Regions from separate parts of the Homo sapiens genome. Here all the other regions are reported to be linked to region 4. The links are microRNA targets in miRTarBase. Many come from high-throughput screens and were not tested one by one. Region 4 holds a microRNA gene; each other region holds the end of a gene's coding sequence.
What was found. Region 4 holds the annotated microRNA hsa-miR-588 (UUGGCCACAAUGGGUUAGAAC, at 2,871-2,891, opposite strand). A microRNA usually pairs through its seed, bases 2 to 8, with sites in the 3' UTR of a target mRNA and lowers its output. Matches are read on the target gene's strand: a 7mer-m8 pairs with bases 2 to 8, a 7mer-A1 pairs with bases 2 to 7 and ends in A, and an 8mer does both.

Region 1 (5,103 bases), not on the chromosome of region 4:
TTCCATATGCAGGTTGATGCCGCCTTACCTTTGGACATCCTAACCTATGAAGAGAAGACCTTGTCAGCCATCTTGAGAATATGTAGCAGGTATGACAGAGAGTGGGAAATTTCTAGTATAACAGGGCAGAGAGACCGATGGAGCAAAAATGCTCTCTTCTGAGAATGAGAATAAATTTTTTGTTGTGAACTCTGAGCAGCTTTTGGGAATTTAAACTGGGATGAATATGAACATTCATCCACCAGAAACTTGTACTCTAGAGAGGGCAAAACTTACGATTTGGTTACAGCTGTAGTTTTCCCATTGATGGTTATAGTTGCAAAGTCAGAAGTGAATATTTTAGAAACCTTAGTTGAAGTTCATTTTGTTCTCTGTCTATGACACACTATGTATTTTCTTGATCTTTCTGCAGTGGTCTTGTCAAATTGTGGAGCTCTTTGACCCTGTTAGGATCCTATAAAGGCAAAAAATGTGCTTTCCGGGTGATTCAGGTAAAGACTATTCCCTCACATATTCCAAACAAGACTGAGTGATGGGTCAACTGCTTCTTAATATACACAACTCATTTTTGTGCTTGCATAAATGTAATATGGTTAAAATGATCTAAGTAGGGGAAAATAAAGGACTTGATTGTTTCCAAAAATGTGAGACAGAGCACTTAGATTTTAAAATCTATGGGAGATGTTTTGGGATAAAACTTGCAACCCTGTGGTTAAGGCTTACTTTTTTTATTTAACACTTAATGCCTTGTGTGTTATATATTGGTACGCTCTTTTTGAGATGTGACCACTTGTTATCGAAGGCTTCCTCTCAGGATGCTCTGTAAAATGCTCCTGCATCAGCTTTGTTTATCCTGTAAAACTGGGCATGTTTCCCCATTGCCCTGTGCTTCAGTGTGGTTTCTCCCAATGCCTTAACCTTTTTCTTTCTCTTCTAGGTTTCTCCATTTCTTCTTGCATTATCTGGTAATAGTAGGGAACTAGTATTGGATTGAATGAATAGTCTTCCATTTTGGAAACGTTCATCCACTCTCATATTTATTTTTTGGTGCCTGCATGTTTGAAGACTGAAGCAGGCTAAAAGCTCTTGATGAAATTTGAGGGTGCTGAAGATGTTCCCACTAATTTCCAGCCATCACCTTTGGTGGGGTGGGCTTCGGAGGACAGTCTGTCTGAACCTGCCAGTGCTGACCCTGCAGCACTTTCAGCATATGCACATCAAAGTTGGAGACCGCGCTGAACTTAGGAGGGCCTTCACACAGACTGATGTGGCTACCTTCTCAGAATTAACAGGGGATGTCAATCCTTTGCATTTGAATGAAGACTTTGCAAAACACACCAAGTTTGGAAATACAATTGTACATGGAGTTTTGATCAACGGACTTATCTCAGCTCTCCTAGGAACTAAAATGCCAGGGCCAGGCTGTGTATTTCTTTCCCAGGAAATTAGCTTTCCAGCCCCTTTATATATTGGAGAAGTTGTTTTAGCTTCTGCAGAAGTGAAAAAGCTGAAGCGGTTCATTGCTATTATTGCAGTGTCATGTTCTGTAATAGAAAGTAAAAAGACTGTTATGGAAGGCTGGGTTAAAGTTATGGTTCCAGAAGCTTCCAAATCCTGAAATAGATGTTTTAAAGATGCAACCTCAAACACCAATGCTGTTGTTAAAGAGCCTATGGGGAATTGCTGCTCTTTACCAAAGAATGGTTGATAGGCCCAGAAGCCCATCTTAGTTAGGGGAAGGGAGCAGGAAGAGGGTTGTTCAAATGCCCACTTTCCAGTTTGGCCTTATGCTTCATGCAGACTTGAGTGTATGCAGGATTTCATTATCTGCCTGGGTTTTTTGTTTGTTTTTTGTTTTTTAATTCAAGAAGTAGGCTGGGCCCGGTGGCTCATGCCTGTAATCCTGGCACTTTGGGAGGCTGCGGCAGGCGGATCACTTGAGGTCAGGAGTCCAAGACCAGCCTGGCCAACATGGTGAAACCCCATCTCTACCAAAAAAAAAAAAAAAAAAAAAGTGCAACTAGCTGTGCTTGGTGACTTGGCCCTGTAGTCCCAGTTGCTTGGGAGGCTGAGGTGGGAGAATTGCTTGGGCCTGAGAGCTGGAGGTTATGGTGAGAAACTGAGATTGCACCACTGCACTGTAGCCTGAGTGACAGAGCGAGACCCTGTCTCAAGAAAGAAGTATTGGGAAGGTTATTTAAAGACTCTACTTTTAAATCAGGCGTGGCAGCTCACGCCTGTAATCCCAGCATTTTGGGAGGCTGAGGCAGGCGAATCACTTGAGGTCAGGAGTTCAAGACCAGCCTGGCCAACATGTGAAACCCCATCTCTACTAAAAATACAAAAACTAACCGGGCATGGTGGCGGGCACCTGTAATCCCAGCTACTTGGGAGGCTGAGGCAGGAGAATCTCTTGAACCTGGGAGGTTGCAGTGAGCTGAAATCACACCACTGCACTTCAGCCTGGGTGACAGAGCAAAACTCCACCTCAAAAAAAAAAAAAAGATTCTACTTTTAGAAATTCAGACCTAGATAGATTTGCATTTGGATAACAAATCCCTACCTATAGCCATGTGGAAGCAGCTTGTCACTGTATTTTAACTGTGTAACAATTATTGAAGGCGAAAATAGAAGTTGGGTCATCTTTGAACACCTACCTTTTATCAATGAATATTTTTAGACTGTTCTTCAGTATCTGAGTCAGAGTTTATTGTAATTTGTTATTTACACCAAGGTGGCATCTTAGTCTACCTTCAGTGAGACTTGCGTTTCAGGGGAGGGGCGTATGTGCATCCTCGGTCTCAGTTATGTAAACGGTCTGATCTGTAAAATAGTGGTAGCACATGCCATGTGGGATAGTTGGTGGAGATGATAGATGGAGTTAAGCACAGGGCCCAGCCTGTCAGCAGTAGCTACTATTATTGTTGCCCATTTCCCCTGCAACTGAGGTGAGAGGTTTTCCTGAGTTTGAAGCTGACTGGCCCACAGTTAAACGTAACAGACCAGTTTTTCAGGGTGTCAGCCAACCTCTATTAGTGTTCTTAAGTACAGTTTCTGTTATAAAAGTTCAGATTATTCCTTGAAAATTTGGATCTACCTCCCATTATTATGAGTAATACATGCTTATAGTAAAAAAAAAAAAATTGTAAGAAATAAATATTAAGAAGATTATGGAGGCCAAATTCTTAAGACTTTGGGGGCTGGGGTCAGGGAGGTTATATTGAAGGGGAGATGTGCCTAACATGTTACTACTAAATGGCCATCCCAACACAGCCAACACTTTTGTTTCCCATTTTTTTTTGTTTCCCGTTTTTTAATAAAATTGAGATATAATTCACATACCATAAAATTCACCTTTTAAAAGTGTACAGTTTAGTGGTTTTCAGAATATCCACAAAGTTGTACAACCATCACCAAATCAATTTTTTATAGCATTTTTCATCACCCCCAAAAGAACCTCCCATTAGCAGTCAATCCATTTCTCTCCTCCAGTCTTTGGGAATCACCAGTCTACTTTCTGTCTCTATGGGTTTCCCTGTTCTGGACATTTCATAAAAGTTCATACAATGTATGATCCTTTGGAACTGGCTTCTTTGATATAGCATGTTTTCAGGGTTCATCCATGTTACAGCATGTATCAGTACATCATTTTATTTTATGGCTGAATAATATTCCATTGTATTTACCCATACATCAGTTGATATTTGGATTATTTTCGCTTTTGGGCTGTTAAAAATAATGTTATGAACATTATAGAAGAGGTTTTTATGTGCACAGGTTTTAAATATATATATATATATATATTTTCTTTTTTTCTTTTTTGAGATGGAGTCTTGCTCTGTCGCCCAGGCTGGAGTGCAGTGGTGCGATCCCAGCTCACTGCAAGCTCCTCCTCCTGGGTTCAGGCCATTCTCCTGCCTCAGCCTCCCAAGTAGCTGGGACTACAGGCGCCTGCAACCACGCCCGGCTAATTTTTTGTATTTTTAATAGAGACGGGGTTTCACCGTGTTAACCGGGATGGTCTCGATCTCCTGACCTCGTGATCTGCCTGCCTCGGCCTCCCAAAGTGCTGGGATTACAGGCGTTAGCCATTGCGCCTGGCCGACAGGTTTTAAATTCTAGGAGTGGAATTGCTGGATCATGTAACTTTAATATTATAAAGAATTGTCAAATTGTTGTTCAAATTACTATTGGGCATGAGGTGGTATCTCATTGTAGTTATGATTTCCATTTCTCTAATGTCAGCCAACACATTCAAGACAATCTATGACAGAATTTTTAATTTTTACCCAGAGAGCAGCTGAACAGACAACTAGAAAGAATTATTCTAGGCCAGGCGTGGTGGCTCATGCCTGTAATTCTCAGCACTTTGGGAGGCCAAGGCAGGCGGATCACGAGGTCGAGGTCAAGAGATTGAGACCATCCTGGCCATCATGATGAAACCCCATCTCTACTAAGAATACAAAAAAATTAACTGGGTGTGGTGGTGCGTGCCTGTAATCCCAGCTACTCGGAGGCTGAGGCAGGAAGATTGCTTGAACTGGGAGGTGGAGGTTGCATTGAGCTGAGATCGTGCCCCTGCACTCTAGCCTGGGCAACAGAGCGAGACTCCGTCTCAAAAAAAAAAAAAATTATTCTAGTCGCTAGAGGGCAGTGTTGTGTATAAAGTTAGTACTTTAAAACTTTAATACTGTATTATACCATATACTAGTTTTCTAAGGTGGAAGACAAGACCAAAATCAATGTGGGGAGCAAGGATACTGTTCTTGTGAGTTTCAGAATGTGCAGCATGTGCAGGCTGAGATCCACTTGAAGAAGACATTTATAGGTGAATCACTAGACATGCTGAAAATGTGTTCAAATGGCAAAACAAAATGGGGAACATGCACAAATATACGGACTTGAGGCCAGGACTGCTTGCTCCTGCAGAACTCATTCCCTGGGATTTAGCAGCAGTCTTAAAGTTAGGTCCATAACTGGATTGGGATGTGATCATTGATACTGATAGCCACCATTTTTTCAATGCCTGATGAGTTGATTTTCTACATTAATGCTAATCCTTGAAACAACTGTGTGAAGTTAACATTATCCTGTTTTTAAGTA
Region 2 (5,103 bases), not on the chromosome of region 4:
ATGCCCGGCTAATTTTTTATTTTTATTTTTGAGACAGAGTCTTGCTCTGTTGCCCAGGTTGCAGTGGCGTGATCTCGGCTTACTGCAACCTCCGCCTCCTGGGTTCAAGCGATTCTCCTGCCTCAGTATCCCAAGTAGCTGGGATTACAGGCACACACCACCATGCCAGGCTACATTTTGTATTTTTAGTAGAGACGGGGTTTCGCCATGTTTGCCAGGCTGGTCTCCAACTTCTGGCCTTAAGTGATCCTCTCACCTCAGCCTCCCACAGTGCTGGGATTATAGGCACAAGCCATCATGCCTGGCCAGCGAGGTTTCCGTCACATAGCTCAGAGTTGTCCTTCTAACCCGTCTGCTGAATGCTGAGCAGGGATCCCCTGTGGACGACTCTGTTTGCTTTACAAAGAAGTCACGAGTTAGCGCTCGGAATGCTCAGTATCATCAGCGTTCATCCCTGGCCACCTCCTGACTGATACAGATTTAGAAACTCTTTATGATTCTTTATGGTTCCCGTAAGCCCTTTAGTCTCGTAAACCCTGGTCTCCTAGTGGGGATGGCATGAGGACATTTGAGCCTGCTCTTTCCAAGGCTGCTTCAGAAGGGCCTGGCCCAGTGGCCCTGACCCTCAGCAGCAGGCCCGACTCATTGGAGTGATGATGGTGGGGGAGGAGAACCTGCACCTGCAGGCTGAGGATCGCATGAGCCCCAGAGATTGAGGCTGCAGTGAGCTGAACACAGACTGCACTGTACTCTAGCCTAGGTGACAGAGCGAGACCCTGTCTCTAAAAAAAACAAAACAAAACCAACTATGTGTAATTGGTAGTGGAGTCTCCCAGGGTGGGAGATGGCAGAGTGACAGGTGAGAGGGGTGGGACGTTCACTGTAGTCTCCCTCTGCCCTGCAGCTTCCCCTTCCTCCCTGCACTTCCTCTACAAGCTGGCCCAGCTCTTCCGCTGGATCCGGAAGGCTGCATTTTCTCGCCTCTACCAGCTCCGCATCCGTGACTGAGGGTCCCTGCGCACCACAGCCTCTCTGCTCCTCACGTCCGTGGCCACAGAAGCAGAGCGACAGAGCGACACATCCACAGGCGCCCCTGGGGAAATGGGACCAGCCTAATCTCGCGGAGTGCACTGTGTCTTGCTGCCTGGGTGCCCTCTCCTTTGCACCCTACTTCGGCTGGTCGCGGTAGATGATGTGGAAACAAAGCAGGACCAGCAGGCACAGCACCTCCAGAACAGTGCCCCGGATGACCAGAGGCCCCTTGAAAAGGAGGGGTTTGGGGACAGGGACTGTGTCCATGAAACATTCCATCTTCTTGGTGAAGGCAAGGGGTTGGTTCTTCAGGTCAGGATGTTAATGGAGCTGGAAGTTCAGAAAAAGCCTGGTGAAGTGACCCTTGGCCTTTCACTTCTTGAGAAACATACTTCTTTGCTGGGCATGGTGACTCACGCCTGTAATCCCAGCACTTTGGAAGGGTGAGGTGGGTGGATCACTTGTGGCCAGGAGTTCAAAACCTGCCTGGCCAACATGGTGAAACCCCATCTCTACTAAAAATACAAAAATTAGCTAGATGTGGTGCACGCCTATAGTCCTAGCTACTTGGGAGGCTGAGGCAGGAGAATCACTTGAGCCAGGGAGGCAAAAGTTGCAGTGAGCTGAGATTGTGCTACCGCACTCTCTCAAAACAAACAAAAAAACATGCCCCACAGGACAGTACCTTAATTAGCTAGAGTAGATCTGAGAGGGCCTCTTCTTGCCTGCACTGTGCTCCCCAGAGCTGATCTAATTCTGTATCAATAGGCTGTTCCCATGGTCTTGCCATGCGCTTGAAGCTGCAGGAGCCTTCTCACTGTTCAGGCTGGGGTGTGGTTTTCAGAACCACCGGGTTGACTACTGAAAACCAAGTGAGCCTTACAGCTCTTATCGCTGGGTAAAGTGATCTTGCCTGGTGCCTCTTGGTCTTCAGCTCAATTTTCCAGGTTGTCCTGGCCAAGTCTTGCTCTGTTACGCTCAGTGCCTCTGCCCACTCTTTCCCCGCCAGCCCTTCCCTCCCGCCCTGCAAACTTGTCCCTTGGCTGTTTCACCAGGTTCTGCCTGTATCCTTGCCTCCTTGGTACACACCATTTCAGGTTCTTCCCTTTCTGTGTCCCATTGTCCTAGTTATGTTCTGTTGTTTGTGTAATGCCCAAATTTTTCTGCTCGTGTGGCCTTGAAAAGTAGGCCAGCCTCAGAGGCTGCTGAGCTGAAAATGGAACTGAGTAATCAGGTGAGCTGGAAGGGATGTGGGGGGCGGGGCAGACGGGAGACATGGGTTTTGAAGGCAGTGAACAATAAAACCTTAGGGAGGTGGCACCGAGGCCTTAGCATTTGAGGAGCTGAAATGTTTCAGTGTTGTTTTCTCACCAGCCACAAGCATCTTATGAGTTTCTGTGCAAGGAAGCGTAGAGCACTGCTGTGCTGTCAGGATGAAGAAGGGCTTTCTGCAGGGGCTGGCCTTTCTCTACCCAGAGGCCAAGCAGGCTGCCCTGCACTGTGTCCTTGGTGTTGATGCCCAAAATAGAGAAGGTGCTTGCTAGCTTTTCCTTGGTACATTTTCGGGGGTTGCAAGGCAACAAGTTTTCTTTTGTTTTGTTTGTTTGTTTGTTTGTTTGTTTTTGAGATGGAGTCTCTGTCACCCAGGCTGGAGTGCAGTGGCGTGATCTCAGCTCACTGCAAGCTCCGCCTCCCGGGTTCATGCCATTCTCCTGCCTCAGCCTCCCGAGTAGCTGGGACTACAGGTGCCCACCACCTCGCCTGGCTAATATTTTTGTATTTTTAGTAGAGTCTGGGTTTCACTGTGTTAGCCGGGATGGTCTCGATCTCCTGAACTTGTGATCCACCCACCTAGGCCTCCCAAAGTGCTGGGATTACAGGTGTGAGCCATCGCGCCCGGCCAACTTTTCTTTAGAAAAATGAGTAAAGTAGGTAAACTTCACAGGCCCCTTAGAATTAAATCCTTAGGGCATGGTTCAAGTCTGTAGGAAGCAAATCTATACTTTTTTATATGGGCTTTTAAGTAAAGCTTAGAACCCTGGGGGGAGAAAAGCAGTCAGGTGAGGTTTGAGATTCCTTCTATAGAATGATTTCTTAAAATGAAAATCTGGGCCCACTTAACTACCCTAGATAAAACGCTTCAATGGCTTCCCATGGCTCACTGGATAACATCTAAATTCTTCATGGAATTGAAGGCCCCTATGTGCTGGTTTTGGCTAAGATCTCCCCTTTGATGTGGGTCCCCTGTTGATTATATGTGCGGCCTTCCAGCTGCCCACCATCACAGCTACAGCTCGCTCCCCTTGGCCTCTGTGCCTTGGCTCGCACTGTTCCTACTGAAGGCCTAGCACCTGCTCTTGGCCTGGTGAGCCCCTCCACCTTCCAGGCTTACTCAAAGAATTCTTTCTGCCCCTCCCTGTGTCCCGGGACCTGTTTCATATCGCTTCTGTGGTCGTGACCCCATGGTCTTGTAATTGTGAACTTCTTTGCTGCCCCTTCGAAGCTGGGGAGTGCTTGTTGCAGATGCATCCAAGAGGGGTAATTGCGTATCAACAGTGGATTTGCTGGTTGTTTCTACAGGGTTCTGAAGCATGCAACATAGAACAGATACCTTTAAATTTAGGGGCGCTAAGGAAAGCAGGAACCAGTAATCCTCTTCTGTGGTGGGATGGGAGGGTGGGGGAGAGGGGTGGAATGGAGAGGAAACAGGCTATTGTTGGCCAGCCCTGGGTGGAGGTGGGTGCAAGCAGGACAGATAGTGCCTGGGGGTGGGGGCGGAGGGTTCGCCTCTAGGAAGGGGCTAGAAGGGATGAGGAAATAGTTCATAGCTTCGTGCAGGTGATCCCTATTCTGCGTGTATGTGTTTGCACATGAGTGTTTGTAGACCATAGACCATTAAAAAATACGGAATTCAAAAGTTACAAAAAGGGTATTCTTGGAAAAGAAAGTTGTTTTTTTTTAGTCTTGCTGTGTTGCCCAGGCTGGACCTGAACTCCTGGGCTTGAGCAAGTCTTCCCCTCAGCCTCTGGAGTAGCTGGGCCTACAGTGTGTGCTGCCACACCCAGCTAATACAGTCTTTCTACTCCCGCTCTCTATTCCCCAGTTTCTTGCCCAGAGGCAACCCTTGCCAGTCTGTTTATCCCTCCAGATACAGTCTCTGATAGTAAACTTTTCTTTCTCTTACACAAATGATAGTAGTCACATACACTACACACACTGTGCCACGTTTAAAAAGAAAAAAAACAATTCTCGGCTGGGCGCGGTGGCGCATGCCTGTAATCCCAGCACTTTGGGAGGCCAAGGTGGGTGAATCACCTGAAGTCAGGAGTTCGAGATCAGCATGGCCAACATGGTGAAACCCCATCTCTACTAAAAATACAAAAAAAAAATGAGCCGGGCATGGTGGTGGGTACCTGTAATCCCAGCTACTCAGGAGGCTGAGGCAGGAGAATCACTTGAACCCGGGAGGCAAGGGTTGCAGTGAGCTGAGATCGCGCCATTGCACTCCCACCTGGGCAACAAAGAGTGAAACTTGGTCTCAGAAACGAAACAAAACACAAAAACCTTTCTCAGTCCCAGCATATGTGGAGCAGCCTCATTCTTCATAGCTGTGTGTCATTCCGTTGCGTGATGGGGTCACAGAGCACAGACCTGGTGCCCTTTTCCTTTTTAATATGTGGAAACCCCTCCATGCTTTCCAAAGCCTACAAGTACAGCAGCCCCAAGTTTAGGGTGAGCAGCAGTGGTCAGAGCTCTTTACTATTACTTTTGGGCAAACGCAAGCCAGGCTGGCAACCACCACTGCCGCCGAGGGGAGATACAAGCAGGCCAGTTCACACTCTGGACGTTCAGTTTCTTTCTACATCTAGAAGGTGGCCTCTGCTATCCACTTAAAGCAGCCCAAGGAACTGTCAGAAAGCGAAAGTGATGACATGAACCGCGAGTAGGGCACCTCCCTGTGCCGTCGTCTGCTTTCCTTCCTCCCTCCCAGCCTCCCTGTGCCGTCCTCTGCTTTCCTCCCTCCCAGCACGGAAAAGCCGTGGGGCCGATGGACTTTGGCCTCACATCCAC
Region 3 (5,103 bases), not on the chromosome of region 4:
AGAGATCGTAAATATGACACACCTGGAAAGAGAAGCAGATACAACATAGATTTAGTTAATCATTCAAGGAGTTATACAAAAATGAAAACCTTTGAGTGTAATATTTGTGAAAAAATCTTCAAACAGCTTATTCACCTTACTGAACACATGAGAATTCATACCGGGGAGAAACCTTTCAGATGTAAGGAATGTGGAAAAGCCTTTAGCCAAAGTTCATCTCTTATTCCGCATCAGAGAATTCATACTGGTGAGAAACCCTATGAATGTAAGGAGTGTGGGAAAACCTTCAGACATCCTTCATCGCTTACTCAACATGTTAGAATTCATACCGGGGAAAAGCCCTATGAATGTAGGGTATGTGAGAAAGCCTTCAGCCAGAGCATTGGACTGATCCAGCATTTGAGAACTCATGTTAGAGAGAAACCTTTTACATGCAAAGACTGTGGAAAAGCGTTTTTCCAGATTAGACACCTTAGGCAACATGAGATTATTCATACTGGTGTGAAACCCTATATTTGTAATGTATGTAGTAAAACCTTCAGCCATAGTACATACCTAACTCAACACCAGAGAACTCATACTGGAGAAAGACCATATAAATGTAAGGAATGTGGGAAAGCCTTTAGCCAGAGAATACATCTTTCTATCCATCAGAGAGTCCATACTGGAGTAAAACCTTATGAATGCAGTCATTGTGGGAAAGCCTTTAGGCATGATTCATCCTTTGCTAAACATCAGAGAATTCATACTGGAGAAAAACCTTATGATTGTAATGAGTGTGGAAAAGCCTTCAGCTGTAGTTCATCCCTTATTAGACACTGCAAAACACATTTAAGAAATACCTTCAGCAATGTTGTGTGAAATATACTAAACATCAAAGAATCTATGTTGGAGCACAAGATTCTAAATCAGTGGTTCCCTGATCCCTCAAAAATCCATTTGTTTTTGGATTTCCAAAAACGAACATTAAAAAAAAATGGTTTGGCACAATGTTCCCAACTCTTAATTTTGCCATATTAAAAACACAACACCTATTATCAGCATTGTTTCAGAAAAGAAAGGACATTTTAATATTTTTAAATGTAGGAACAGTTCCCCCCTCCATTTTTTTTTTTTTTTGTTTTTTGAGATGGAGTCGCTCTGTCACCTGAGCTGGAGTGCAGTGGCGTGATCTCAGCTCACAGCAACCTCCACCTCCCAGGCTCAAGCAATTCTCCTGCCTTAGCCTCCTGAGTAACTGGGATTACAGGTGCCTGCCACCACACCCAGCTAATTTTTGTATTTTTAGTAGAGACAGGGTTTCACCATGGTGGCCAGGCTGGTCTCGAACCATTCAGGTGATCCGCCCATCTCGGCCTCCCAAAGTGCTGGGATTACAGGTGTGAGCCACCGTGCCTGCCCCTCCCCCACCCCCGACCCAGACCCTTTTTTAAAAAACAGTTTCACTCTTGCCCAGGCTGGAGTGCAGTGATGTCATAGTTCACTGCAGCCTCAAACTCCTGGGCTCAAGCAGTCTTCCTGCCTCAGCTTCCCAAGTAGCTGGGCCTACAGATGTGCACCACCATGTCTGGCTAATTTATTATTATTATTATTATTATTATTATTATTATCATTATTATTATTGTAGAGACAGTCTCACTATGTTGCTGGACTGGTCTCAAACTCCTGGCTCCAAGCAGTTCTCCCACCTCAGTCTCCCAGTATGCTGCGATTACAGACATGAGCCACCGTGTCTGGCCAGGAACAGCCTGTTATATTACGTCAGCTTTATGACAGACTCCCACATTTATCTTTACTTTTCCCAGTTCACTATGTGCCAGTGAAATTTCATGGCGTGTTAGTGATCTGTGGATTAACTTTTGAGAAACACTCTTTTAAGTATCCCTTTAATAAATCAGAATAAAATATAGTACAGCCTTTTACTCTAGCCCTTTATATGGCTAGAAGAGGTAGAAATTAAAATGTTGCTTCTCATTTCTAGAAGAAAAAATGTTAAAGGGAGTTTTCTAGCATTGATAGATAACTTACTGTACACGAGATGCTTATTTATATTTTATGGTTTTATATAGAGCAAGAATTGGCAAACTTTCTGTAAAGGGCCAGATAGTAAATACGTTAGGTGTTGTGGGCCATGTGGTCCCTGTCACACCTATTCAACTTCCCCATTTTAGTACAAAACAGCCAGAGACAATATATAAACTACAGTATCTGAACCTTGGCACTACCAATATTTTGGACCGGATAATACTTTGCTATAGGAAGCTGCCCAGTGCATCCTGGGATGTTTAGGGGAATCCTTGGCTTCTACCCACAAGATGCCAGCATTCAATGCTGATAGCTGCCCCTCCCCCAGTTGTGACAGTCAAAAATGTCTCCAGACATGGCCAGGTGTACCTAGAGGCCAAAATTGTCCCTGGTTGAGACCCACTGATGAATGTGTGCAATAGTGGTTCCCATAAACTGCATTTAAAAAACAGCTGTTAGGTTTCGTTTGGCTCAAGGGCTGTCATTTTTCACTCCTCCCCCCATAGAGTATGTAAAATGATTAGAAATGACAACAGACTATCATTTAGTATCAGATTAGTGTGTGTATATGCCATAAATTATTTCCTTAGCAATTCCTTTAGTATTTTTGTTGCAATAATTCTTTAAACGCTACATTTGTAATGCTGTCTTGGAGCCTAGGAATTATTTTTGGAGATATTTATGCAGACTTCCCTCTATAATGATCGGTTTTTTATTATGGTTAATCCATAAATATTTTGAGATGTATCTCTAAAAAACGAGCACTCTTTGAAAACATAACCACAATGCCATTATTATACCTACAAAAATTAACCACAATTCCTTAAAACATAATGATGCCTTTTTGAAGAGAGATATATTGAGACTTCATTCTGGGGAGAAACCTTTCAGATAACTTTATTTACCTTTTCCTTTGCCAAGCATACAACATTAGATTTGAAATATGCTTTGTATCAAGTGGAAGTGTCTCTTAAGATAGCCCCTAGAACAACACATCAAGAGGCCCACCAAAGAGGACCAGAGAAAGGTGACTGAAGGAGCCATACTCAGGCAGGGAAATACGGAGAGAAAGCAGAGGAATTGGCTCCTAATGCTTCACTGTACTTAATGAAATAGATACTCCATCCTTACAGACATAATTGGAAGTAAGTCAAGTTCAACTTCTTTGTTTTATATGGAGATAGAACAGTTTCAATCACGTGAGTATTATAAGTGTGAATTATCTAAAGTAAAGCTATAAATCCAGAATATATACCAGTATCTCTAGAATTTTTCATATTACTACATTTACTTAAAAAAAAAGCTGGCCTCTAACTCTTAAGTCCTGTATGACTGATGGGCAGAAAAAGAGTGAGGTATACACTGTTTCTTAAAATTGTTCTACCATGTTTCTATGGTCTTAGATTTCCCAAGAATTTGAATTTCTCCAATTGCTTATTTCCCTGAAAGACATGACTATGACTTTTCTCTGTAGTTCCTGCCTCAGTGATCTCATACAGTCTTTGGCTTAAAATACCGTCTCTGTTTAACAGCTGCCAGATTCACATCTCCAGCCCAGACCTCTCCCGAACTCCAGCCTTGTTCTAACCTTTGGGCCGTTTCACTAGCTGTTGCAGATGCCCTATACCCTTACCTTCTCATCTTTGCTCAATTGTTGCCTTCTTACTGAAGCCTATCCTGTCCATACTATTTAATACTGCAGCTGTCTACCTTCCAGATCGAGAAATCCCATACCCCTTTCACCTGCTCTATGTTTTTCATATCACCTATCACCCTAGATACTTCACATATTTGTGTTTATTGTTTACTGTTGTTTCCCCTGGCTATAATGTAAGCTCCATGTGGGCAGGGGCCTTTGTTTTTTTCACTGATATATCACAAGTGCCTAAAACAGTGCCTGACACGCAGAAGGGACTCAGTAAATATGTATTGAATGGTTTTGATTTGAACTGAATTGAACTATGTATCCATGATGCAAGTAAAGAAATGTAATCCATATACTTTCCTACCTACATTTTATATGTGAGGAAATATTTTTTGTTTCCTTTTTCTTTTCTGTGCAAGTGGACCAATATTTGAGAATCGTATACCTTTGAGAATCATAGCTGATATACTTTAAGATAAAAGGGTATTTCTGTGTTAATTTGGTTTGGTTGTTTTTGTTTGTTTGTTGAGACAAAGTCTCACTATGTTGCTCAGGCTGGAGTGCAGCGTCATGATCATGGCTCACTGCGGCCTCAACTTTCTGGGCTCAAGCGATCCTCCCACCTCAACCCCCTGAGTAGCTGAGACTACAGGCACATACCACCACACCTGGCTAATTTTTGTATTTTTTGTAGGACGGGGTTTTGCCATGTTTCCCAGGCTGGTCTCAAACTCCTGAGCTCAGGCAATCACCTGCCTCAGCCTCCAAAAGTGCTGGAATTACAAGCATGAGCCACTGTGCCCAGCCTAATTTGTTTAAAATGCATTTAAATGTGGCTGATTAACAACATGAGTTTATCTTTATTTCATGAACCTGAGTGCATAAGCAAACTGGAGGGTATAAAAGACAATAGAGGAGAATATAGAAGCAGACATGAGATGTCAAGTTTTTGGTGGTGAGAAAATAGAAGAGTGGTGACTGACTTAGCAGAGCCTGCAGAAAAGTATACTGGCACAAGGATGTTCCTGGGAAGACAGAGGCCTTGGAGACAGTGGGCATTATGGAAGAAAGAGGGCTGAAAATGGGGATTCATTGAAATTCTAATGTCAGATCCTTAGACCCCCTCACCTACCCATACAGCTGGCTGTTACGCACACATTCCTCCCTCATGCCTTTCTTCATCCCATTACCCTTTCCTCATCCCAAAGGAGACTAGAGGTTTATTCTCTGGTGAAGGACCGGTCTCCCAATGTGCTGGGATTACAGACATGAGCCACCATGTCCGGCCAGGAGCAGCCCTGTATATTATATCAGCTTTATGACAAATTCCCAAATTTGTCCTTACTTTTCTCACTTCACTATGTGCCAGTAAAAATTTCATGTCATGTTAGTGATTTGTGGATTGACTTTGGTGTCCTTGATTCCAGAGTTGT
Region 4 (5,103 bases):
CTCATAAATCATAAAAACATTTTGTACCCCATAAACATATACAATAATAAAATAACGATTTACAATAAAACAAAAATTATATTTTTTATTTTTTTATTTTTGTGGGTACCCAGTTGGTATATAAATTTATGGGGTACATGATATATTCTGATACAGGCATATAATGCATAATAATCACATCAGGGTATATGAGGTACCCATTACCTCAAGCATTTTTTGTTTCTTTGTGTTACAAAAAAAATCCAATTATACTTTTTGAGTTGTTTTCAGATATACAGTAAATTATTGTTGACTGTAGTCATTTTGTTGTGCTATTAAACAATAGATCTTATCCATTGCATCTAACTATATTTTCATGCCCATTAACCATTCCCACATTCCCCCACCCCTCACCTTTGAACTACCCTTCCCAGCCTCTGATAACCATACTTTCAACCAGACTTCCATCTCCATGAATTCACTTGTTTTAATTTTAAGCTCCCACAAATAAGTAAGAACATGTGAAGTTTGTCTTTCTGTGTCTGGCTCATTTCACTTGACATACTGACATCCAGTCCCATCCATGTTGTTGCAAATGACAGGATATAATTCTTTTTTGTGGCTGAATAGTACCCCATTGTGTATATCTGCCACATTTTCTTTATCTATTCATTAGTTGGTGGACATTTAGGTTGCTCCCAATCTTTGCTATTATGAATAATGTTGCAATAAACATGAAAGTGCAAATATCTTTTTGATATATGGATTTCCTTCCTTTTGAGTATATACCCAGTAGTGGGACTGATGGATCATATGATAGCTGTATTTTTGGTTTTTGGAGGCACTTCTAAACTGTTCTCCATAGAGGTTGTACTAATTTACACTCTCGCCAACAGTATACAAGGGTTTCCTTTTCTCCACATCCTTACCTGTATTTATTACTGCCTGTCTTTCAGATATAAGCCATTTTAACTGAAGTGAGATGATATCTTTTGTCTGAGAAATTCTTTATTTCTCCTTCATGTTTTAAGGATATTTTCGCTAGTTATACTATTCCAGAATAAAGTTTATTTTTTTCCTTAAGCACTTTAAATATGTCATGCCATTGTCTCCTGGCCTGTAAGGTTTTCATTGAAAAGTCTGCTGCCACACATACTAGACCTCCATTGTATGTTATTTGTTTATTTTCTCTTGTTGCTTTTATGATACTTTCCTTATCTTTGACCATTGGAGTTTATTAAATATCTTGAAGTTTTCTTATTTGGGCTAAATCTGCTTCATGCTCCATAACTTCAATTACATGTGGAATTTAAAATAACTAAACTCATAGAAGAGAGTAGAAAATGGTAGTTACAGAGGCTGGGGGTAGGGGAAATAGGGGCATGATTGATTTCCTTGAATATTGGTATCTTTGTTTAGGTTTCTCTGTTATTATTCCTTTGAATAAATTTTCTATCCCTACCACTATTTCTATCTGCCCTATTAAGGCCAGTAACTCTTAGATTCGCCTTTTACAGGCTGTTTTCTAGATCCTGTAGGCATGCTTCATTTTTTTTATTATTTTTTCTTTTGGATCCTCTGTGCATTTTCATGTAGTCTGTCTTCAGGCTCACTCATTCTTTCTTCTGCTGGATCAATTCTGCTATTAGATACTCTGATGATTTCTTCAGTATGTCTATGGCATTTTTCAACTCCACAATTTCTGCTTACTTATTTTTAATTATTTCAATCTCTTTGTTAAACTTATCTGATAAGATTCTGAATTGCTTCTCTGTGTTACCCAAATTTCTTTGAGTTTTCTCAAAACAGCTATTTTGAATTTTCTGTCTGAAAAGTCCTCATATTGCTGTTTCTCCAGGATTTCTCCTTGGTGCCTTATTTGGTTCATTTGGTGAGTTCATGTTTTCCTGGATGATCTCTATGCTTGTGGATGTTTATTGGTGACTGGGCATTGAAGACTTAGGTATTTATTGTACTCTTCACAGTTTGGGCTTCTTTGCATCTATCCTTCTTGGGAAAGGTTTCCAAGCATTCAAAGAGTGTTGGGTGTTGTTATCTAAGTTTTTGGTCACTGCAGCCATATCTGCATTAGGCAGGGCTTTTCCTGTGGCTCTTGCAGACTTGTAGAGGTACTACCTTGGTAGTCTTGGTTAAAATCCAAAAGAATTCTCTGGATTCCCAAGCAGAGACTCTTGTTTTCTTCCCTCGCTTTCTCTCAAACAGAGTCTCTCTCTCTCTCTCTGTGCTGAGCTACCTGGTGCTGGGGGAGGGGGTGACACAAGCCTCTTTGTGGCCACCATCACTGGGGCTGCAATGGGTCAGATCTGAAGCCAGCACAGCACTGGGTCTCACCCAAAGCTCATGGTAACCACTGCCTAGTTACCATCTGTGTGTACTCAAGGCCCTAGAGCTCTACAATCAGCAGATGGTAAAGCCAGCCAGGCATTTGTCCTTTCCCTCAGGGCAGTGAGCTCCCCCAGCCCTGGGTGGGTCCAGAGATGCCAGCTGGGATCCAGGGCCTGAACTCAGAAACCTTAGGAATCTACCTGGTGCTCTATTCTATTGCAGCTGATCTGGCACCCAAGCCACAAGAGAAAGTCTTTCCCACTCTTGCCTATTTCTTCCACAAATAGAAGAGTCTCTCCCCTTGGCCACCACCAGCCCAGGCTTGCAGCAAGTACTTTCTGGTTACTGCTGATGTTCACCTAAGGCCCAAGGACACTCCAGTCAGCTTGTGGTGAATGCTGCCAGGCTGGTACTCTCCTTTTAAGGCAGTGGGCTCTCCGCTGGCCCAGGGCAGGTCTAGAAATTCCATCCAAGAGCTGAGGCCGGGAATTGGGACCCCTTAGGCCCAATTTTGGCCATGGTGGGTAAGAACACAATGGAATAGTGTTCTAACCCATTGTGGCCAAATTGGTACCTAAGCTGATTTTCGGTTCTCATGAAGGTGCTTTTTTATTTAAATAGTTGTTCAATTTGGTGTTCCTGTGGAGGGGACGACCAGCAGAGACTTCTATTTAGCCATCTTGCTCCATCTTCTCCCCTAAAAATTGTTTTTAAATGAAGGTACAATAAAGATATCTTTGAAAACAATGGCTGAGAAAATTCTTCACCACAGACCTGTGCTAAGGAAATAAAAACTAGGTCTTTCAGCTAAAAAGAAAAGGGTCCCAGTTACAAGCAAGAAGATGTAATAAGAATTGAAGTAAATATTTTGGGCAAGAAAGAATATTGATAATTATTGATCTAATCTTTCATTTCAAAAAGCTAGTGGCAGAAGAGCAAGTACAAAGAAAGTAGATGAAAAACAGATAATCAATATAGCCCCAAAAGTCAATTCACTAGAAAATAGGCACACAAAAAAAATAACAAAAGCAAAAACTTTAAAAATATTATTGTGATATATTAATATATTAACATTATATATAACTACAGGTCCTACAGAATTTAGAAGAAAATAAAGGACATTACTAACACTTTGATGCTGGTAATTTGGAAAAAAAGGACAAATTACTTGAAAAACCACAAGTAATAATTCACAAAAATAAAAAATATGAACACTCCAATATCTACTAAAAACATGTAATTTTAAGCTTTTCTTACAAAGAAATCTTTAGACCTAGATGACATCTCTGGAAAATTCTTTCAAACATGTAATGAAGAGAAAAAAATACATTCTAACAAAAAATTATCCAGAAAACAGAAAACAGAGGGAAAAATTTCTTAATTTACGAGGCCAGCATAACCCTGATGCCCAAACCTTACAATAACAATGTAGGACTGGAAAAGTATAGCCCAATATATTTCATTAATCTAGATGGAAAAATCCTACCCAAAATATTATCAAATTCCACCTAGTAGTGTATTTAAAAATCATAGGTTTTATATAAAACTAATTGGAGTTTTTGCCAGGATTGGAAGTTTGGTTTAATATTTTAAAAATCAATCAGTGTAATTCATCAAATTAGAAAAAATAGAAAAACTTTATGAATATTTCAAAGGAATGTGGAAAAAAGCATTTAGTAAAATTTTACATCTGTTAATAAAAGAGAAAACCCATTTGATGATTTTAGTATATTCAATAAAAAAGCTCTTAATAAGATTCTACACTTGTTCATGATTTGTTTAATTCAGTAAGTTAGGAACAGGAGTGTATTTTCCTAATCTGATAAAGAGGTCTACTAAAAATATATAGTTAATGGTAAAGTTTTAATGCAATTGAACAAGGATAAGGAAATAATATCAATTATCAGCACTTTTATTCAACATTTCACTGGAGTTTCAAAGCAGTTCAATAAAGCCAGAAAAAAATATAAATTTTCTGCAGAAAATTTACAAGAATCTACAAAAAAATTAAAAATAAGAAAATTTACAAATAAATGTTTCCAATAATCAGTCACCTCCATTTCTTTATACTAGAAATAACTGAAAAATGAAATTTAATTAAAAAGCAAAATCATTTATAATAACATCTAAAAGGGTCCACTACCTAGGATCACATATATAGAAACATTGCAAGGCTTTTTCCTTAAGGACCATAAAACATTGGTGAGAAAAATTAATATCAAAATAACTAAATAGATATACTCTGTATATTGACTGAAAGACACAATATTGATAAAATGCCAATCTCCCTCAAATCAACATAATCTCTATCCAAATCCCAGCCTGTTATTTTGTGCAAATTGACAGTTTTATTCTAAAATGTACATAGAAATGCAAGGACTTTATATAGTCAAGAAAATATTACAGAAGAAAAACTAAACAGGAAAACTTATACTACCAAATATCAAAGCTTTTATAAGGCTAAAAATAATTAAGATGGTGAGGAAATAATACAACAAAAGGTAAACAAATGAAACAAATTAGAGAGTTCAGAAATACACTCACTCAAAAATACTTAGCTGGTTTTGATAAAACACTATTGCAATTCAATGTATAAAGGATGTCTTTTTGATAAGTGGTTCTGGGTCAATTGGCTATCCATATAAAAATAAATTAACCTAAATCCATACATAATATCATGTATAAAAATCTTATATTTAAGGACCATCAAAACCTAAATGTGAAATATAAAACAAGACTTTCATAGGAAAATATAGAACATTATTGTCATGATGGGTG
Region 5 (5,103 bases), not on the chromosome of region 4:
GAGGGACCCCTCCCCCGCGGTGAGCTCGTCTAGGCCTCCCGCCTGCGCTCTATGGCTCTGCTGAGTTTCTGGCATGTCTCTATTCTTTCTCCCTCTCCATGCCTATGGTGTGTTTATGCTCTTGTTTTTTGATCCTGGAGAATATTTGGGTGAACTCCACCAAACCTGCTTACTAAGGGTCCCTTTCTGACACCTGTGGCGAAGCCCCCTCCTCCCTGTCCCTTCCTGCCTTCAGTGCTGGGGTTGGGTGGACGCTGACTGGCTGTTGGGCGTGAGCCTTGTTCACAAACCTGCCTCTCCTTTCCCCACAGATCTTTGTGGAGTTCACCTCTGTGTTTGACTGCCAGAAAGCCATGCAGGGCCTGACGGGCCGCAAGTTCGCCAACAGAGTGGTTGTCACAAAATACTGTGACCCCGACTCTTATCACCGCCGGGACTTCTGGTAGAGGCGGCTGGGGGAGGGTGGGGGCAGGGCTGGCTGGGGGCTTCTCCCCACTCCCGCCCCCCCCTTATCCCCCTCTGAAGACGATGGGCAGAGGAGTGACAGCCGCAGACACACGACAGCCGGCAGCAACTGGAATGGCAGCAATTAAGGGTGGGGGGCGGGGGTTGGGGGGTTGGGGGGTTAGGGCAGGGAGGGGACTGGGGAAGTGCGCACACAGCCCACACAGACAACACGCACCCACACAGACACAGAGGGAAGGGGTTGGGATGGGGACAGGGTGCACAGCAGGGCGGGGTAGGACCCCAGCCCCTCCCAAAACAGCCTCTCCTTCTCCCATAGACCCCTTTCTTCTCCCCTTCCCCACGGTAGGAACATAGCGTGTTTATATTTTATGGCCAAACTATTTTGAATTTTGTTGTCCGGCCCTCAGTGCCCTGCCCTCTCCCTTACCAGGACCACAGCTCTGTTCCTTCGGCCTCTGGTCCTCTCTGGTCCCCTCCTGGGTTTCTTACGTAGTTGATTTTTCCTCTTTAGTCTCCCCCGACCTGCGCCCAGCCCCGTGGCCCCTGCCCCTCTCCTACTCTCTGTGGCAGTTTCATATTTGCTAAGACGAATTTGCTCATTAAACATTTTGTTGTATTTTACTTTATGGAGCGGCTGTGTGTCCAGTATGTCCGACCCTCTTCCTCGGTTCTGGGCTCGGGTGGGGGTTCCCTTGGCAAACTGCGGGCCCCTGGCTGGGACGCCCCTGCTGCCGGCGCCGGCAGCCTCGAGGCCTTCCCTGCTTGCGCGGTGCCCTTCTCGGGGTCGGCACAGGCACAGCCCCGGGGGACGTGAGGTTCCCGAGTGCTCTCCCACCCCGCCGACAGGAGGGATGGTGGCCGAGCGGGCCGGGGCGGGCGTGGCGTGGGTGTGCCAGGAGCTCCGCGGTTGCCGCCAAGCGAGCTGGAGCTGACTCTCGGCGTTCCGTGAGCACCGCGCGGATCCCCCGCTGCAGCGGGCGGAAGTGACGTAGAGGCGCCTAGCAACGGGGCCCAGCGCGCCGGAAGTGATGCCTTCCAGGTTGGCTTGGCTGCGGAAGCGACTCCTGCCAGGGCGGGGTGCGGCACGGGAGGGCGGGGAGCGCGGCAATTTCCGCTTCCGGTCCGTCGCCTCCTTCTGTTGCTTCCCGTCTCCTCGGCGGCTCCCCTCCCCCGCCCGGCTCTCCGCGCCCCTTCTGGGCGGCGGGGCGGCGGAGCCGTCGGCGTGCGGCCCTCCTTGCGTTCGTGCGTGCGCCCGTGGCCCGGCGCACGTCCCGCGACACCGAGGCCGAGCGGGGCAGGGGGCTGACCGCCATGACCCCCCAGAGCCCGGCGTGAGGGGGCCGAGGTGAGCGCGGGGCGGAGCGCGGGGGACGCTGGCCCGCCTGCTCCGGGTGTTCGGGCCTGGGCCGCGGCGCGCGCGGGCTCGCGTCTGGCCAGTTCTGGGTGTCTCTGGCGGCCTTTGTGTCTCTGCTCCTGTGTCGGCCTTGACTGCCCCCGTGTCGGTTGTCTGTGTCTGTCTCTCTCGTGTCTGTGTGTCTGTCAGCGTCTGTTTCCTGTGGGCCTCTGCCTGTGCCTGTTTCAGTGAACTTAGAAAAGGGTTTGGAGATAGGAGTGTGTTTGTGTGTCTGTCCCGGGTCTCTCTCTCCTCTGTCTGTCGTGTCTGTGTCTGTCAGGATTTGTTCGTGTCTCGTTGAGTTTCCGAGTCTTCTTTTCCCTAGGTGTCTCTAGCCCTTCCCTGCGGGCTTTTCTGCCTATGGTGCAAATCTTACCCCCGCCCCGTCTTCGCATCTGAGTTTTGCCCCCATACCTATCACCTCCAATCCTGAAGTTTCTTTCCAGGAGTCTGTTAACTTGATCTAGAATCTGCCCCTTTTCCCCAGTTTTCTGAGTCTCTGGTGTGATGGTGAAGAGCCCCAGCCTTGGATTCAGAAGCCCGGCTGCCTGCTAAGCTGTGTAATTGCCAGGTGATAGTCTCTGTGTCAAAACCTCAGTTTCCTAGTCGTAGGAAATCCATAGTTCGTAGGCATTCGTAGTTCCTACATCATAGGGTCCTTGTGCATGTAAGTTGAGGTGATGCTTGTAAAGTGCCTGACGGTATCTGACACATAGCAAGTGTGTAATTACTGGGAGCTCTGGTTTTTATTATTACAGTGCTTAGAGATTTTTACACAGTAAGTGTTAGATATCGGTCGGTTATTGGAGTACTCCTTGGAGAACTTTGCCATATCCTTTGTATTCTTTTTAATGTAAGAATTCTCTTTGAATCAATTTAATTTGAAATACAGTCTCATTCTAAGCAGTATCTGAGAAATCTCAGCTTTGATGTGCTAGTTGGGTAATTTTTTCTAATGCACGCCAAATAAGTACAGAGTATTAAGATAGTGCCTTTTCTGCCGCCACCCTTTTGGAAATGTTCTCTGTTTTTTCTCTGATAATAATAGCAGCCAGTGTTATTGAGCGCCTACTATCTGTGGGGCACAGAGCCAAGCACTGCATGTACCCATCTTATTTAATCAACAGGCCTACCAGGTAGGAATTCTTTCATTTCAGAGTTGAGCAAACTGTGTCTCAAGGAGGTGTGCGCTGCAGGTAGCTGATGTGGCCAGGATTTGAACCCACATTTTATATTCTTTGCCATTAGATTCCATTTTTCTTATCTCTTATTTCTCAGCGCCAGGTCTCTTTTTGTTTCTGGGCCTCTTTCTTCCTTGGCCTCCTGCCTCCCTGTCTTCCCATGTTCTTGTATCTGCTGCTGCCTGTGTTTTTCTCATTGTGTCTCTGCCTAGCTCCCTCTGCCCAGGTTTCTATGTGTCTCTTTCTGTCAGAACTGTCTTCTATTTCTTCTCAGTCCCCTTCTCTGCATTTGTTACATCATCTCTTCATCTTAATGTATTAGGCTGGGGCTGTTTTGGGACTCCAGAGAGTTACTTTTTAACTAGCTACATCTGTCTTCAGGTGCCTGGCTTTCTGGCCTGAGGTGGAAGCAGAGGCCAGCCTCTCTCCGTCATCCCTATCTCCCCTGGGCTTACATCATGGCGGGGCTTTGAAAATCTCCCTCTGTGGCTTCTTGGAGCCGCATAGATGGGTGATCAGAGCTGGCTCTGGAACCAGGCTGCTCCAGGAGTAAGGTGTGTGTCCCTGGGCAAGGGGCTGAACCTCTGTGTCTCAGTTTCCACCCTGTGAGGTGGCTATGAATCATGGGGTTGTTTCAAGGATTAACTGAGTTAATACATGTAAAGCACTTAAAACAGTGCCTGGCATGGGATAAGAGCAGTGCGAGTGTCTGCTGGTGTCATCATCATTTGCTTGACTCTCTTGTTTCTCGTCACCAGTCTCGGGATGGGTTAATTTAATTTAGGTTAATTTAAAAGTATGAGTTTTGGAGTTCAGGTGGGCCTCGGGTTGAGTCTGCCCTGCCATTCCTGGTGTGTGACCTTGGTTGAATTATTTAACTTCCAGGAGCCCAGTCTTTGCATGCAGTGTTGAAAAAGGTAATGTCCCTCTTGTGCTGAGCGAGCACCTGGCACACAGCAGGGACCCAGGCAGTGGGGCTGTTAGGTTCCTTATCTCTCCTGAGCCTTGGGCTTCCGCTATCCTTGGGACGTCTGGTCTTCTGGCTTCCCCGGTTCTTCCTGCCGCCCTGGGTTGGTTCCCTGCTCCTGCCTCTGTCTTTAATCCCTTCATCAGCCTTCTTTCCCATGTGTCCTTGTTTCTGCTGTGGATTCCTGCCCCCTCTGCCCTTGTTCCAGAGGTCTTTCCTGCCCTCCCTCTCCACTTCCTCCTTGCATGGTTTACTGAATGGTTTTTCTGGGCCAGCTTCTTTGCTGGGAAAAGCCACATGCAGACAGACATGTTCTCTGCCCCCATGGGGCCTGTGGGTTGACCTTAGCTACAGAATCAGACGAGAATATAAAATCATGAGGGAGACTGAGTTTACTGATGAGGCCCCAGGGATAGGTGACTGTGATGTTTGGGTGTGCACCTGGGAAGTGTAAGCAGAGCCCTTGGGGTGAGTGGATATCCCTGGATGAGGAAGAAGGAAGAGCGCATGGGCAGGACGGAGGGCCTCCTGATGCGCTGCCGGTGTTTACAGGGCGTCAGTTCTCTAGATGACCGCATGGAGCCCCATTTGACAGAAGAGAAAGCTGAGGTGCAAAAGATCCAGCCCGCCCAGGGTGGCCTTGCCAGGAAGTGCTGAGCCAGGTTGTGGGGCTGCGATCTGCCACTGCATATACTCTGCCTCACTGAGCAGGGGCCCCAGCAGGAAGGAGGCAGCCTGTTTGAGGAACTGAAACATGGATGGGGTTACTTTGAGACCTAGAGGTTAACAAGGGACAGAGCCTTCTGGGCCACAGTTAGGAACTCATCTTTGACCCTGAGGGCTCTGGGCAGGCCATGTCCCATTTGTGTTTCCAGAGGTCCTCTTCCCCTCGCAGATGCGGTGACCTGCCAGCACCTGCCGCAGCCTTCGTCCGGGAGTCGCCCCATCTCTCCACGCATCGGGGCCCTGTGCCCCTTGCTGCTGCAGCCGGGCACCATGTCGACCTCGTCCTTGAGGCGCCAGATGAAGAACATCGTCCACAACTACTCAGAGGCGGAGATCAAGGTTCGAGAGGCCACGAGCAATGACCCCTG

Region 1: the mRNA of RPP14 is a reported target of hsa-miR-588. Seed matches in the 3' UTR shown: 7mer-A1 at 1,964-1,970 and 7mer-A1 at 2,306-2,312.
Region 2: miRTarBase lists PEX26 as a target of hsa-miR-588. Seed matches in the 3' UTR shown: 7mer-m8 at 1,048-1,054, 7mer-m8 at 1,496-1,502, 7mer-A1 at 1,520-1,526, 7mer-A1 at 1,987-1,993 and 7mer-A1 at 4,374-4,380.
Region 3: miRTarBase lists ZFP69B as a target of hsa-miR-588. The part of its 3' UTR that is shown has no 7-base or 8-base seed match.
Region 5: miRTarBase lists U2AF2 as a target of hsa-miR-588. Seed matches in the 3' UTR shown: 7mer-A1 at 838-844.

The regions. Positions count from the first base shown.
Region 1 is chr3:58,316,503-58,321,605 of GRCh38, forward strand. RPP14 (ribonuclease P/MRP subunit p14) reads left to right here. Exons shown (of 6, transcript NM_007042.6): 4 at 13-89; 5 at 413-491; 6 at 938-3,691. The coding sequence ends at 994. HTD2 (hydroxyacyl-thioester dehydratase type 2) reads left to right here. Exons shown (of 5, transcript NM_001348712.2): 3 at 13-89; 4 at 413-491; 5 at 938-3,691. The coding sequence starts at 1,112. The coding sequence ends at 1,618. Among named protein-coding and RNA genes, the nearest start is that of HTD2, 13 kb to the left of the region's middle.
Region 2 is chr22:18,087,068-18,092,170 of GRCh38, forward strand. PEX26 (peroxisomal biogenesis factor 26) reads left to right here. Exons shown (of 5, transcript NM_001127649.3): 5 at 905-5,103. The coding sequence ends at 1,008. Among named protein-coding and RNA genes, the nearest start is that of PEX26, 12 kb to the left of the region's middle. RefSeq lists enhancers at 4,626-4,685, 4,706-4,915.
Region 3 is chr1:40,462,729-40,467,831 of GRCh38, forward strand. It overlaps ZFP69B (ZFP69 zinc finger protein B), which reads left to right. Exons shown (of 5, transcript NM_023070.3): 5 at 1-987. The coding sequence ends at 861. Among named protein-coding and RNA genes, the nearest start is that of ZFP69, 12 kb to the right of the region's middle.
Region 4 is chr6:126,482,434-126,487,536 of GRCh38, reverse strand. It overlaps MIR588 (microRNA 588), which reads right to left and starts at 2,906; the gene lies at 2,824-2,906. It also overlaps a transcript of CENPW not described here.
Region 5 is chr19:55,673,623-55,678,725 of GRCh38, forward strand. It overlaps U2AF2 (U2 small nuclear RNA auxiliary factor 2), which reads left to right. Exons shown (of 12, transcript NM_007279.3): 12 at 312-1,094. The coding sequence ends at 446. EPN1 (epsin 1) reads left to right here and starts at 1,604. Exons shown (of 11, transcript NM_001130072.2): 1 at 1,604-1,813; 2 at 4,905-5,103. The coding sequence starts at 5,006. RefSeq lists silencers at 1,166-1,385, 1,556-1,885, 4,081-4,375 and an enhancer at 4,297-4,706.